Regions from separate parts of the Homo sapiens genome. Here region 1 is linked to region 2. Evidence: fine-mapped expression QTL. Tissue or cell type: whole blood. Region 2 holds a variant in brackets; the other region holds the start of a gene. All regions are shown on one strand. Distances are between the middles of the regions.

Region 1 (7,883 bases), 42 kb before region 2:
ATCTGAGTCACATTTGACTTTTTTTCTCTCGCTTACTGCAACCATCCACCAACACATCTTATTGGCTCAAGGTTCAAACTGTAAACATTTCTTGCCACCTCCACTGCTACCATCCTAGTCCAAGTCTGCCATCTCTGGTAACCTTAAAACTGTCCTTATTGTTTCTGGTCTTATCTCCTACAACCTAGTTTTCCCCACAACAACTAGAGGGTCTCTTTAAAGGTTCAATAAAATTGTGTTACTCTTCTAATCAAAACTCTCAAATGGATTTCCCTCCATTGAAAGTTGGATTTTACATTAAGTCCTTGCATACAATACAAGTCGCCACTAAATCTGGGCCATGTACCTCTACAATCTCATATGTTAGCACACTTCCCTTATTATATGGTTTGGACCTGCATCCCTACCCAAATCTTTTTTTTTTTTTTTTTTTTTTTTTTTTTTTTTTTTTTTTTTTTTTTGAGACAGAGCCTTGCTCTGTCACCCAGGCTGGAATGCAATTGCACAATCTCGGCTCACTGCAACCTCTGCCTCCCAGTTTCAATCGATTCTCCTTCCTCCGCCTCCCAAGTAGCAGGGATTACAGGCGCTTGCCACCACGCCCAGTTAATTTTTGTGTTTTTAGTAGAGATGGGGTTTCACCATGTTGGCCAGGCTGGTCTCAAACTCCTGACTTCAGGTGATCCACCTGTCTTGGCCTCCCAAAGTGCTGGGATTACAGGCGTGAGCCACCATGCCAGGCCTCCCCGCCCAAATCTTACGTCAAACTGTAATCCCCAATGTTGGAGGTAGGGCCTGATGGAAGGTGATTGGATCATGGGGGCAGATATCCCCACTGATGCTGTTCTCACAATAGTAAGTGAGTTCTCATGAGATCCGGTCATTTTAAAAGTGTGTGGCACCTCCCCTCTCTCTTTCAGTCCTGCTCCTGCCATGTAAGATGCCTGCTCCCACTTTTCCTTCTACCATGAGTAAAAAGCTCCCTAAAGCCTCCCCAGAAGCAGATGCTGCCATGCTTTCTGTACAGCCTGCAGAACCATGAGCCAATAAAACCTCTTTTCTTTATAAATTACCGACTCTCAGGTGTTTCTTTATAGCAGTGCGAGAACTGCCTAATACACCCTACCTCACTCTATTCCAGCAACAGTGGTCTTGTGCTGTTCTTTGAGCACAACAGTATGATTCTGTCCTCACAGTCTTCTGTACTCACAGACCCCTGTGCCCTTATTCTTCATCCAGATATTTGAATGGCAACCTCTTTCCTTCATTCAGACCTCTGTCCTAATTTCCCTTCCTTTGGGGCCTTTCCTGAGCACCCTCTCACAGATAGAACTGACATTGGTCTCTATCCCCCTTCACTATCCCACTTTCCATGTAGCACTTTTCACTACCCTAATATGTTCTAGTGGGGAAGAAAAATAAATATAAGCTTCACGAACATAAGGACTTTGAAGTTTTATTCACTGTATCCCTAGCACCTGGAAAGTGCTTGGCACATAGTAGGTGCTCAATATATATTTCCTTAGCAAAAGAAGGAATTGTTTTATGGTTTTAAAGTGTGAAAGAATATAACATTGTATTTAATTCAGATGCCCCTTCTGATAAAAAATAGGGATTTTAGGGTAACATTCTTCTTTACTGCTTGAATCACAACTGCCTTTCCTGTCAAGAGATGAAGTTGATAAAATCCTCAAATTTTTTATTATCCAAATATCTAATCCTAAAGCCTTTTTCCATAAATAACACTGACAAAAAAGTCATGACAAAATCAAGCATCATGATGTTCAGAGCCCCTTGGGCCCTGCCTTTCTATAAGAATCTAGGATTCTACAACTTAAATAGAATGTGGAAAACCCACTTAATATTTTGAAGAAATAAAGAAAGAATTTAAAGGTCGAAAAAACCTATGATTAAAAAAACTGGCAACATTGTTTGAAATTTCTTTTCTTCTTGGTTGTTACCGTAAAACAATATTTGAATGAAGAATAATTATATAAGTCTAAACTGAAATAAAATCCTAAGCCCCCACTGACTGAATAGACCCCCTCTTGGCCAAGGGGACCCTGGGAAAACCTTAAAACTGAGTTCCCAGCCATAATGGGATGGAAGGTCAGCTATGCCTCATTATATCCTCTTCCTGTTGTAGTTTGGACACAATTGACCAGGATTAACGTTAAAGTAGAGATCATTAGACTGACGGAACAGACACTTGGTGGCAGTAAGATATCAAATTACAAATAGGACCTAAGGCCATGCCAGGCAAGGGTTAAGTCATGCACTCCTACACTTAAAGAATAAACTATGTTTAACTTCCACAAGTTTTCTGTTTTTCTCTAGCAGCTAAACAAACACTGGCCTTGAGATAAGCAATAGTAAAACAATCGTAGCTCACCACCAGACACTGACTAACTGACCCTCTGTTCCATAAGCCATAACTACAGCTTTGATTGGACAACAGACTGATTTCAATAACTTTCTCCTGATGAGAACATCACCAACCATGAGGTGGTTCTGGCCAGTTTAAGAGGACTGCTCACTTGAGTGCCTTTGTGTCCTAAAAAAAATTTAGACATAATAGGGCCTAATTGTAATGCAATTAAATGTTAAGTCTCCAGCCCAAAATGAACATGGGTCATATGTTACTGTTTGTTCAATATACATGCATCAGAACTACCTTCATAAATATTCATAGCTCCTCCTATATCCTATAAATTATGTATGTTTAGCCAACTTTTCAGCATAAATCTCCTACCTCAACATCCCTCCTTCAAAGTACCTGCCTCTTTAGGCTTCAGTTGGAGGCACACTCCCAGCTTGTGGGATGGCCCTCCTTTCAGGCTGTAACCCTTTCCTCTCCTTTCTAGATTCATAAATTACGTGTTTTTTTAAGTTAACGTAAGAAAGGATTTATAGGCAATTGAGAAACCAAATTATGCTTCTTAGTGCTAATATACCAAGCCACAAAGCAGTGAGATGCCTAGGACTTACGAGATCGCAAACTAATAATATAGCAAAAGCTGGACTTCTGGAAAGCTAACCATGCCTAAATATTCCAAATAGCAACTCTAATATTCTCATATTCATCTGTACTTTGCACTGCCCTACTTTACTCAGATCACCCATGGGGAGACAAACGTGTGATGACAGCAGTGGGAATAGAATCAAGGCCATTGCCTGTGGCTAGGCCAATTAAAAACTTGCCAAGATAGCCAAGTGTCCAGTTGTATACATTTAGCTTTTCATGTCAGAATTGTATATTTTATCCTGTTGGTATGCTTCTGAAGGAGAGTTCATGTGTTTTGTGTCTTAAATCGAAACTGGATTTGTTGTGGCACTTTAAAATCTGTCGCCAGTGTACATTCCAATTTGAGTCATTGCAACCAAGTTTGCAAAGATTGTTTTAAACAGTTTCAACTGGAAAAGTTTATTATTTGAAATCTTAAAATGAACAAATTAATTCACAAAGGCAGAGACATTTGAATGGTGGGTGAATAATCTTTATTTGGTCTGTACTTTCTGCTTCCAATCTGGGAATTTTTCCAAGAAAACACTGACTGAAATACAGTCAGAATTTATATATGCATTTACATTAGGCTCCAACAATAAGATTCAGCCTTTTTCAAAACTGTCACTTGCATAGCCAATAAACTAGTGTCTCAAAAATCCATTTAATTTTCCATACTTCCCAAAACCATTTCAATGCGATGATCTCTTTTGGCATATCTTCCCAAGAGATTGCTAGTTTTGCTGTGATGGTCCATTTCCAGAATCTGGCAGCAATGCGAGAACCATTAGGAGGCTTTGAAATGTAGACCTTCTAAGTAGGGCAAAGGCAAGGAAGACGACTGCAGAGGGAATGCCAGAAGCATTACCGAGTGGATGAGAGAATGCAGGGAAGGAAAATTTCCACTTCACAAAGACATTTTAAAGAGACGGTGTTTGGGGATGATGATGCCACAGAAAGACTCACAACTCAAAATCTCACAACAGGATTCAGTAGTTTAACAAATTCAACTCCAAATTGTCCCCCAGACAATCACTGCAGACTCCTCCCGGTGGCAATTGCCTGTATCTGAGGATTTTACATCTGTCTTTCGTCACTGTCGGTACTGCCACAAAAACACTCTCATAAAAAGGGAGGCAGAACTGCATCAGGCTCTAAAACAACACTCAGCTCACCCCTCGCGCAACAACCCGGGTCCCTAGGGATGCTTGGGTTGCCACCCGCCGCTCGAAGCTGGAGGGGCCGCCGGAGCCTGCGATTGGCTGCTTCGGGCACATCGTCCCGCCCCGACCTGTAGCTCCTCCCAGGTTTCCGTTGTCAAGGACGCGCCGTCGGTTGTTGTCAAGATGGCGGCTGCAGGGTTGCTGCCGCCCCATCTGCTATTGCCCGGCGAGGTCGCCGCTGCCTCAGCTGCCATCGCCGCTACAGGCACCAGTGCCGCTGCGCGGGAGCTAGGGCTGTCGAGGCCAACCCTTCCGCGCCCGTGACGCGGGGCCTGAGAGACGGAGTGTAGGGAGGGGCCGAGCAGGAGGAGGAGGAAGCCGGAGCTGCCATGAGGGAGGTTCTGGGGGCGAGCAGACAGGCGGCGCTGAAGTGAAGGATGCTGGCGGGGAGGCCCGGAACCCGGAGCGCGGTCGGGGAACTGGGCACTGAATCATCGGACAACCTCGACAGAGCCCCCCTCGGCCCTCGGGAGAGCGGCGGGCATCACCGACCTGGCTCTTACCTGTATCCTTCCCAGCCTGTGGCTGCCAGGGTAGCGATGTTGAAAACGGGGCCCATCTTTTTCCAATTAGATTCCCATTACCTTTGACGCAGGGTGATCAAAACTAGCAAGTCATCTTAGTGCAGATATTTCCTTTAGCAACTGTCGTGTCTCACCTTAGACCTGAAATTATACCATTTTATCTAATTCTGTGGCTGCTTCCCCCCATCACCCTGTTATCCTACTCCCATTCTTCAACTTTGTAAAATTTTTGTGAATTTTAAAACACATCAACTGTGTATTCTGTGGGGATATTTTTATGCCATTATGTTCTTTACTTACATATTAACTACTTCCTGATTTATCGTACTACTTGGAGAGAGAAATTACACAAATAAGTAAAATGTTTTGCTATCCTAAAGAGTCCGTTTTAACAGTTATCCTAACACAGCCCTAAATGCATTTACCAGAGCTGCTAAAGGCTACACAGTTTGGTAAGTTGTTTTGTTTTCCATCTCTGCCCAGTCTGTTGTCAGAGCGACAGAAAAGAGGAAATGAGAAACAGGGGACCTGGACGCTTTACAATCTGGATTAACTCTGACTTTTCTCGAAGAGTTGGTTAAGCCTACCTTTGATGTTGCTGTTGGTTGCATTGTAGAAAATGGAAAGAGGAGAAGTATTTTGTTATCAAAATCTGTAAATCAGGTTTATTCCTTTAGAGACTGTTGTGATGATTAGGATTTAACCTTTGTATTCCCAAAGGACTTGGTTGGCAATGATGGTGTTGTGTAATCATCTTCAGTCTTGTCAGAGATGAGTGTCTTCTCTTTCCAAGTTAACTCTGTTTTCTTATCCCCTTTGTCTCCAATTTCTAGGATGTTCTTTGTACTCTGTTACAATTTTAGCAGCAAGTCAACAATTTGTATTGAGTGCCTGCTCTTTGGCTGACTCTGTTCTAGGTTCTAGGGATACAAATCTAGTGAGGAAGACAAATGTGTATAGAGCTTCACTAAAAGTAAAATATCTCTTCTCCGATCATGCTTTCTGCAATCTTCCATCCCTTCAGTCTTTTCTTTCTTTGGGCAGGTTCTCAAAATGGTAGCTTGCAATAGCTGCTTCTAGTTCCTCTCATCTATTCATTATTAACCCCATTCAGTTTGGCTTTTGCCCTTGCTGCTCCCCAAAATTGCCCTCTTAAAGGTTACTCTGAAATGAACACAATCATTTTCTGTATGGATTTAATTCTGGCCTCTTGACATTATATTTTCTTGGACACAACTGCTATTACACGACCCTGATTTATCTCTAAATCAGAAAATAGGGAAGTATTGTAAATGGCTCATTGAGAGTGTATTTTCTGTTATTTTCATTAATAAAATGGTTGTAGGCCTCATTTTTTAAATTTTATGTGGTATAAATTTTTGATACAAATGCCAAAGAAAATATTCATAAATAGAATCCAGCAATACTTTGAATGAACACAACCAAATAGACTCTATTCCAGAATTAGAATGACATTTCCTATAAAGAAATACAACACTAAAAAAGATCCTTAAAGGCTAAATATATAGTTAAAATTAGGCAAGTTATAAATGAACATTTTAATAGATGACCAATAGACTTTGATAAAATCCAACAATGTGTGTGTGTGTGTGTGTGTGTGTGTGTGTGTGTGTGTGTGTGTGTGCTGGTTTATATATATTTTTGCTAGTTTGCATATGTGTGTATATATATGTTTAGATAATATATATTTAAATTGGAACAGAGGAATTATTTTTGAACATAATAAAGATTATAACACTAAATCAAGAACATTATGTTTGCTAGCTGGAAAAACACTAAAGTACCTTTTATATAAGTTTAATTGGAATGTTCTTTGTGTCTATAATGTTTCCCATTGGATACCTAGCACAGAGTAGGTGCTCAAATTTACATGACTAAATGAAAAAAAGGAAAGAAAGCAAATGAAAGGACCACAGCCTTAAAATAAGCAAGTATGTGGTAACATTTACATTTCAATTTCAAATATGAACATGATACTCAGAGGCCATCTGGCTTTCTGTTGAAGACATTTTCTCACTGGAGTCAGAATTTTCTGACTCTAAAGGTTATAAAACAACAAAACCTTATGAAGTTTATTTAATTAAAATTAGCTAAAGTTCTGTCATTTCAATCTCTTTTTCTCTTTTGAGAGTTCAAATAGAAATGGAATTTAAAAAAAAAAAAAAAAGGAAGGTCTCTCATGTCCCCTTATACCTGCCTTTTTTTCCTCATAAATATCTCTACCCTTCAACCCTCCCATTTTATCCTAGCACCCACCTTGCCTCTCCTTTCCTCTCCAGTTTATACCCTATTCTTAACTATTTGAACTTTCTCTCACCAACATCTTTGGCTATTTGTACCCCAATCATTCTGCCTCAGCCACTCAATAACTACTATAGTCCTGCTCCTTTACTCCTTCATGCGAATAATAAAAATGCTGTCAAAGAAAAATCACAAAACAATACAGATTGTACCACTAAAGATTGATGGTTTCCAGCTTCACCTAAACAGGAACAGGGTTCTTTCTTTTTCCTATGAATGCCTCTGCCAGGTCTCTGTCACCTTCCATCACACTCGATAGACTGTCTTACCACTTGATAAGACTTGGATGCCCTGACAGGTCTGTTCCAACAAACAGCACAAACACACACACTCCCACCCACCTGTCTTTTTTTCCCCCCAGGCTCACTGATGGGATCTTACTTTTACTATAGAAAGTGAAGTGAACCCATTCAGCTGGGCCCAGTGGCTCACATCTGTAATCCTAGCACTTTGGGAGGCCGAGGTAGGCAGATTGCTTGAGTCCAGGAGTTCGAAACCAGCCTGGGCAACGTGGTGAAACCATATCTCTACAAAAAATACAAAAATTAGCTGTGTGTTGTGGTGCATGCTTGTAGTACCATCTACTTAAGAGGCTGAGGCAGGAAGATTGCTTGAGACTGCGAGGTGGAGGTTGCAGTGAGCCGAGATTATGCCACTGCACTCCAGCCTAGGCAACAGAGTGAGACCCTGTCTATAAATAAATAAATAAATTGTATTTTGCTAATACATACATAATAAAACATAGTTTTGTACCTTGTGTTTCTAAAAGGTACTGCCCCATGCTCATGAGATTTTGAAACTTAGGTACAT
Region 2 (7,883 bases):
CAAGAGCCAATTTCTTATAGTAAGAAATCTGGGCCATGAATGTAGACATGACAGTCATCAATGAATGAATAAAGTTAAAGTCATGGCAGTATCTGCCAGTGGTATTCTTAGATTCAGCTAAACAATCAAACTCCCTTAACTGTACCAGGCTGTTTGGCTTCAATTAGAGACCAGAAAACAGTGCATGCCAACTAGGTAACATTCTTCAATAGGAGGAATCCTTATAGAAGGCCACAAGACAGTTGAGGGGCTAGTTTTTGCTATGTTTCTACCCTCTACAAGTGACAGCTCAGCTTTAAGGCTTATAATGCTTACATTATCACAATGGGTAGGCATCTACCTATTCTGGATAAGACGCCCCATGTTCTAAACAGGAACAAATGTTTTTGTAATGGCTCCATATGAATTTCTCCCATGGAAGAGATATGTCCAGTAATAAGAATTATCATACTCGAGGAAACTCAAAACTATAGCTTTCTAGCAGATACCTGTGGTTTCTTTGCAGTCCTCTTAGTCCAGATGTGGTTTACCAATGAAGGGCCATTTTTACCATAATCAATGTGCCTTGTAACACAGCTTAAATCCTACTAATTATCCAGAGAAATAGACTTAGAAAGTTAACTCAAAGTTGAATTGGTCCATAGAGAAGGAGAAGATTTTGTTAACCCTTTACTCACACACTAATATAGATAAGGTCACATAGACAGTATAAGTAAGATTACAAAGAAAGTATGGATATAGATAAGAAAAAAAGAAAGCCACATAACTCAAAAATTTTAGCATATAAAGGACAGGCAAAGAAAGAGGAGCTCAAGAAAGAGCCTGAGAAGGAACAACCAGAGAAGTAAGAAAATAAATGGGAAATGTGATGATGCGGAAACCAAGGGAATTAAAATCAAGAAAGATAGTGGTCAAGAAATACCTATTTTTGCAATTACTAGGTAATTAGTTAACCACAAGCAAAGTAGTACATTGAAGTGATAGAGGTGGAAGCCAGATAACAGTTGGGTTAAGAGACAAGTGGAAGTTGTGGTAGTAATATAATTTACTACCATATTATATGTGTCAATATAATTTTAGAGTACTCTATAGGAAAGCTTGTCTGAAAAGAGATGACAAACAATTAGAGGGAGTCCCGGGATTTATTTAGACTAATTTTAAAAATTCTAAACCAGTTAATGTAGAAGCAATGTACATTTTCTATACAGGGCTTCTTCACTTTCAGGTTTTTTTTTTCTATCAGTTGTTATACTTTATGTTAATTGAATTATTTTCCTTTTTTGTTTGTTTGTTTGTTTGTTTGTTTTGAGACAGTCTCACTCTGTCTCCAGGCTGGAGTGCAGTGGTGCAATCTCGGCTCACTGCAACCTCCACCTCCCGGGTTCAAGCAATTCTCCTGCCTCAGCCTCCCAAGTAGCTGGGATTACAGGAACGTACCACCACACCCAGCTAATTTTTGTATTTTTAGTAGAGACTGGGTTTCACCATTTTGGCCAGGAGGGTCTCGATTTCTTGACCTCGTGATCCACCCGCCTCGGCCTCCCAAAGTGCTGGGAATACAGGCATGAGCCACCATGCCCAGACAGATATTTTCAATTTTTAAAAACTCTTGTAGAATGAAGAAAAGCATAGGCGTTTTTCTTGTTCAACAGTGTGCAGTTGCTTGAAGTCTTAGAAGAGTTAAACTGTCAGAACAACTTTGCTTTCCCTGCAGCAAACATGTATATATGATTACAGCAAGTCTATGCTAGGATCATTAAATAACACACATCATCTTTGTTTTATAGAAATGATCTTCATTGTGCATTAGAATACCTAGTTAGTTTTCATGTTATTTTAACATACTATTTTGACTTTGACTTCATGATATCTATATCTATCTGTGTGTGTATGTTTATATATACATATATATATCACATAAATTCTATGTATTTGGAAAACAACAAGTGTATACAATGTATAGTGAGAACACTATGATTTACTTATTAAAAAGTTAGACTTCTCTCCACAGATAACCAATAATCTTAAGTAATGTATATGAAAGTGCTTTGTAAAATTTGAAATTCTATATAAATATGAGATATTGGAATATTAAGAATCAGGTGTTAGGTTAATGGACATATTTTTATTTATTGAAAATGTAATTAAGCTGAAACCATTGATAAACTACTATCACATTAAAAATACATTTTCAGTGGAATGTAAACCTAAATGTGTTAAGAAATAAAGTAATGCCAAGAAATAAGGGGCTTACAAAGAAGCAGAGGTATATCAGTAAGATTATTCTAATGTGGAAAATGTTAGTGGTAGATAAAAATAAGATGTTGGCAATCTGATCATGTAAAAGAGAAAAAAAATATATGATAAAGTGCAGGGCATTTAGTGCTTAAGCCCTAAGATAAATCAGAGAATATATTCTCATGAACATAGAAGCTGCTTCAGCAAATAGTGAGATATAAGAATATTAATAAGGGAGTAAAGTTAAAAATATAAGAAGTAATTAGTCTTCTGTCACCATCAAATCCTTATCATAAAGCTAATATGCTTGACCATTCTGGAAGGTGTAAAGTAAAAGGGGATATATTGTCTCCCATATTAAATGGTTAAACTTTAATAAAATGATACTGCTAGATATCTATCTCCAATATCCATGTATCTGTAGTGTGGCAGTTGATCCTGAACTACGTGCTACACTGAGAAATCTGGCCAGAGCTGAGCAGTTATCTATTGACCTCTATTTGCCCTTTGAACTCATGCTTTAAACCAGATTGTCCAGCCCATATTCCTGTATCTGTGTGAGTAAAAGGCTTCTGAGAAGTGAAAATACTCTAAGAGCAAGAAATAAGAAATGGCGAACCTGAATAAGCTATGTACGTTTTTCAGTACATGTGAGAGGACACTGGTTGATCAAAGGATGATCATACATGGACCCTATGGACAAGAAAATAACATGAATCAAAAGCCTAGAGGCAGCCCAATAAACCAAAAAAAATAATCTTAATAAGGCTGTCTCTCTGCCTGCCTGTCCAAATGCTTTTCCACCTGTGCAGATCCATTCCTGCCTGTCCAGCTGTCTCCACACCTGACCCCTACTTACCTGATCAACTGTCTCCTCCACGGGTCCCATTGCGGTCCCACCACTTCCAAATTCTTCCTAGCTACCCAACTGTTTCTCCTGCCCGCCAGCCCCATATACTGCCTATCCATCCATCTGTACCCTCTACTCTTCCAAAGACCTTTGCACCAGTCCCATTACTGCCTTACCCAATTAAATATCATCCTTGTCCTCCAACCCCGGCTACTTCCAGCATTTCTAGCAGTTTCCCTCGTCTACCAGCACCAATTCCTTCTTGCCCACCTGGCCATCCACCCCACGCACCCCAGAGTTCTCCAATCATTCCTGACCCTGAGTCACAGCACAAGTTATTTTACAAAACTTTCAGACCCAAACATTTCCTTCCAGCACAGCATTCTACTGCAGCCACTCTAATGCCTACCCTTGTTCGTCGTTCCCTTCCAGCTCCACTGGTTGTTTCCCCAACCCCTTTGGAACCTCTCCCTGTTTTGAAGCCTTCCTGTTTATCCAGTCACCCCCCTTATCCACCAGTCCCCACTCTTTCTTATGTCACTCCGTTGCCTGCACATCCTGCTAGCTTGGATCCTTTTCAGTCAGTCCAGCAATCTGTTCCACAAGCCACAGCATTGTCAAATCAGCCCGAGGCCTTTGCAGATCATCCACCAGCCTCAGTTCTCTCCCTTGCATCTCCCTGTCATTCTCCATCTTCTTCTTTGCCTTCATCTCCTTCTACTTCCACATCCTTTTCTTCAGCCTGTATACTGTTTTCTTCCTCCTCATCTATTCTTTCCTCTTCTTCGACTTCCTGTTCTACTTCTCCATCCTTACCTCCTTCATCTATCCCTCTTTTTTCCTCTCCTTTGCATTCATCTTCCTCTCCAGGTTTGCCTCCAACTTATTTAGCTTTTCCCTCTCCAGTTTCTCCTGTTTCTTCTTCCTTTATGATTTCCTCTTCCTTTCCCCCTATTCTTCACTCTCCTTCTGTTTCTACCTCCCCATCTCCTTTTATTCCTATCCACCCCTTCAATCCTCCTCATTGGGGGAAGAAAGTAGAGAAGAGAAGAGAAGAAAGTGGAGTAGAGAAGAAAGGAATAGAGAAGAAAGTTGAGACACGACAACTTTAAAGGTAAATAAATTGAGTTTATTAGATATTTTGTAGATATAGCAATATTTTGTTTGGGAAGGGCGACTGAAGGGGAAGGATTATCTAAGAGTAGGAAAGTGTAAAAGGAAGAGACAGAAACATACTCTCAATGTTCAGGAACTTGTATTAAATACCTTCTTGCTCTCCCTGATTAAATGTGTGATCACAAAGGGATAGTTAATCTAGTAATCATTGACCTTGACTACTCCAGTCTGTCCAAATAAAGATATATATATGGATATTGGAGATAGGGAATAGGTATATATCACATGTGGCCACTATCACCTTCCAAAACATTTTTATTCTCATTAAAGTGGGAATAATTTAATTGAATTAGGAATAAATGCTCTT[T/C]GGATTCACACTGCCAGCCCCAGTGCAGCAGCATTCAGCTATATGGTAGTCTCATCCCCATCCTATCCTCCCCCAAAACTCTTCTTTAGTTCTTTGCTTTCACTTTGTATATGTGCTGAAATCTAACATGCTATAGATTTGCAGAAGATACAAAATTCTAATAGAAAATGATGTCATGCACTGAAAATGTTTGGATGGCCCTTTAGCATAGTAAAGGTAGACTCTATATTAAGGGTACGCTTCTGTGGCATAAAAACCATGCTTATATTCCTGTTTATATTCCTGAAATAACTGAAAATAAGTGAGTACTTGGCCTCCATTGAGGACGATCCAAGTTCCCAATGCTAGTTAAATAGGGAGGAAATTCCTGCTGACCCTGACAAGCAATTTTTATATTTTCTATCTGCTTGAATCTTCAACCAACACTATTAGGGTTACAGTTTTTTCCTAACCTACTAGCCATGACATCAACTCAGAAAGAAGGGTAATGCAGTATATTATTATCCATATAGGAATGCTCTTAAAGACCTGAGGACTGACTCTACACAGGAATTACTTCTACCCTTATCCCAGATTATAGAGGGATAGGTTATAATAATCAAAGCCATGAATTACTGGGCATTCCTATATGAAGGTGGAGTTCTTTACTGGTACTTTAGTCTCACAACTACTTTTATTCTACTATTGATTGCCTTAAATTCTCATTCTAACATGTCTATATATTTCTCCAATATCCTTATATGTGGTTATCTGGACAAACACACACGTATTACACCTAATGTGTCATGTATATACATATAGAAAGAAGTTAACTTTATTTAAATGTACTAAGCACTTTTTATGTCTGGTTCACAGAGCTATAGATTCTGCCTTGCCTTCCGCATTATCAAAAAATGATCACAAGCATCAGAAACAACTCTTATCCAAAATCAATTGTGAGAAAGAAATGAATGAAAACATGAGGGCAACCTTGGCTACTAGCAAAAATGTGTTCCAGCTTAAACTGGAGGAAACTCAGAAACTCCTCGAAGATCAACATCTAAGCAATTTGCAAGTATGAAACTATAAAAATGTTGTTAATATTTTAATTCCTTGCACTAATTTTGCTCCACTTTTGCAGTGTTCTCCACTAAAGAAATATCTTACTAGCTGAGAGCAGGCCATGAAAGACAGTGTGGATGAATCAGCACAAATTCATCATAGAAACTATAGAAATAATTTTTTAGTTTTTTCCTTACCTTTGAAAGTACAATGTAATGTATTATTGTTAGAGATTGTATTATAAAAAGCAACCAGAAAATTATAATACATGTAGATATTAGTTTCTTAATGGAAATATGGCAGAATTTGCTAGAAATGATGTTTGTAATCTATCCCTAGTAGGGCATATACTTTATTTTTTCCACAACTGAATACAGATATCAGCTGATTTTCCTACATGTCCATCCATGTACTTTATTTTTCATTAATAATTATGCACATTTATGAGATTTTTAATAAACCAATATAAGATTAAATTCATAACATTGGCCTGATTCATCCAACAATTAATCAACAGTGGCAAGGCTAAGAAAGCAAAACAGAAGATTCCTGGCAGCTATCGTGATGTGCCTTCCTACCATAAACAACTATAATTATGAACAAAATAAATAAAACAACTGCTTGTAGACATGGGTCAGAGGCAGTGCAGGATGTGATCTTGAAAAGGGGAAAGAAATGATGTAAGCCTTATAACCTAGGCTTTCTACGTAGTTATGTTGCCTGAATAAGCCTTAAAAAGATCCACTAGTAACCCAAGCTACCTATTAAACAAAAAAACTTAACACTTTTTTCTTTTTTCCTTTTTTTTTCTTTCTTTTTTTTGAGATGGAGTCTCACTCTGTCACCAGGCTGGAGTACAGTGGTGCAATCTCGGCTCACTGCAACCTCCGCCTCCCAGGTTCAAGCAGTTCTCCTGCCTCACCTCCCGAGTAGCTGGGACTACAGGTGCCCGCCACCACGCCCAGCTAATTTTTGTACTTTTAGTAGAGACGAGGTTTTACCATGTTGGCCAGATGGTCTCCATCTCTTGACCCCATGATCCGCCCGCCTCAGCCTCCCAAAATGCTGGGATTACAGGCATGAGCCACCATGCCTGGCCAACACTTTCTTAAAGAAGACTATGAAATCTAAATACTCAATAACATAATGCTCACAATGTCAGCATTCAATCAAAACTTACTAGACATGTGAAGAATCAGGAATATATGACGCATAACCAGGAGAAGAGTAGTCAATATAATCAGACAGAAATAACAGAGATGATGGAATTAACCAACAAGGAATTTTAACGTATTTTTACAAATATTTTCAAGGAATTAAAGTAAAAATGTACATAAGAAAGACAATTGAAAAAAGAAATAAACAGACCTTCTAGTTCTGAAAAACATACTATCAGAAATGAAAAATTGACTGGATGGACTTAACATTGCAGTCATTGCAGAACAAAAGATTAGTGGACTTGAAAACATAGCAATAGAAATTATCCAAGCTGAAGCTTTGGGAGAAAAAGGCTGGAAAAAAATGAACAGTTTGTTAGTGACCTGTGAGACCATATAAAGCCATCAACACATTTAATTAAAAATAAAATTTAAATAAAATTTCACAAAGTAGGAATGGAAATGTTTAAAGAAACCATCGCTGGAAATGTTTCAAATTTGATGAAAATTATAAATCCACAGACTCAAGAAGCCCAACAAACTCCAAGAAGGATAAGTGTATGCACACACACATACCACAGAAAGGCACCTAAAAATCAGATTAAAGCCAGAGGGAAAAAAGATATGTTACATGCAGGGCAATAAAGATAAGACGGACCGCTAAATGTAACTTATAAGCAAAACTTGAAATTGATCATAATGTTTCATTATTTAGTGGTGGGAAAAAATCTGAAGAAAAAAAAAGTATTGTTTATGAAATCAGAAGTTGCCAAACTTCTTCTGAGGTGATTTGGGAGATGAAGCAATTACAGACCTATGCAAATGGAAATCTTAGAGCCATGGATGTCATACTTATATCTAGAAGGATCTTCTAACGCAAATTTCTGTGTCTCACTAGATGTAACCTCAAAGGATGCCTTCCAGGCCTGATTTCATCATCATTATCAGTTAAAACAACTTATTTCCAAGAACAGGCATTGAAGTAGCTATGCTTTGTTTTGTTCCCTGTTTGGGTTGAGTGATTATCACTTTAAGAAGTATGCCAAAGGATGTGATAAATAGGGACTAAATGCTAAAAATATAAAACTCTCATGAATAATTTTTAAAACTTATT

What was found. PIP is the estimated chance that this variant, and not a neighbour inherited with it, causes the effect.
Region 1: it holds the start of CEP126, and the variant in region 2 is fine-mapped to the expression of CEP126 in whole blood (INTERVAL, PIP above 0.99).

What each region holds. Positions count from the first base shown.
Region 1 is chr11:101,910,681-101,918,563 of GRCh38, forward strand. CEP126 (centrosomal protein 126) reads left to right here and starts at 4,330. Exons shown (of 11, transcript NM_020802.4): 1 at 4,330-4,732. The coding sequence starts at 4,605. ANGPTL5 (angiopoietin like 5) reads right to left here and starts at 5,842. Exons shown (of 9, transcript NM_178127.5): 1 at 5,339-5,842. RefSeq lists an enhancer at 4,249-4,348.
Region 2 is chr11:101,952,742-101,960,624 of GRCh38, forward strand. It overlaps CEP126 (centrosomal protein 126), which reads left to right. Exons shown (of 11, transcript NM_020802.4): 5 at 5,427-5,625. It also overlaps the pseudogene LOC100418997. Among named protein-coding and RNA genes, the nearest start is that of ANGPTL5, 40 kb to the left of the region's middle. The variant T/C (reference allele first, on the strand shown) is at 4,572.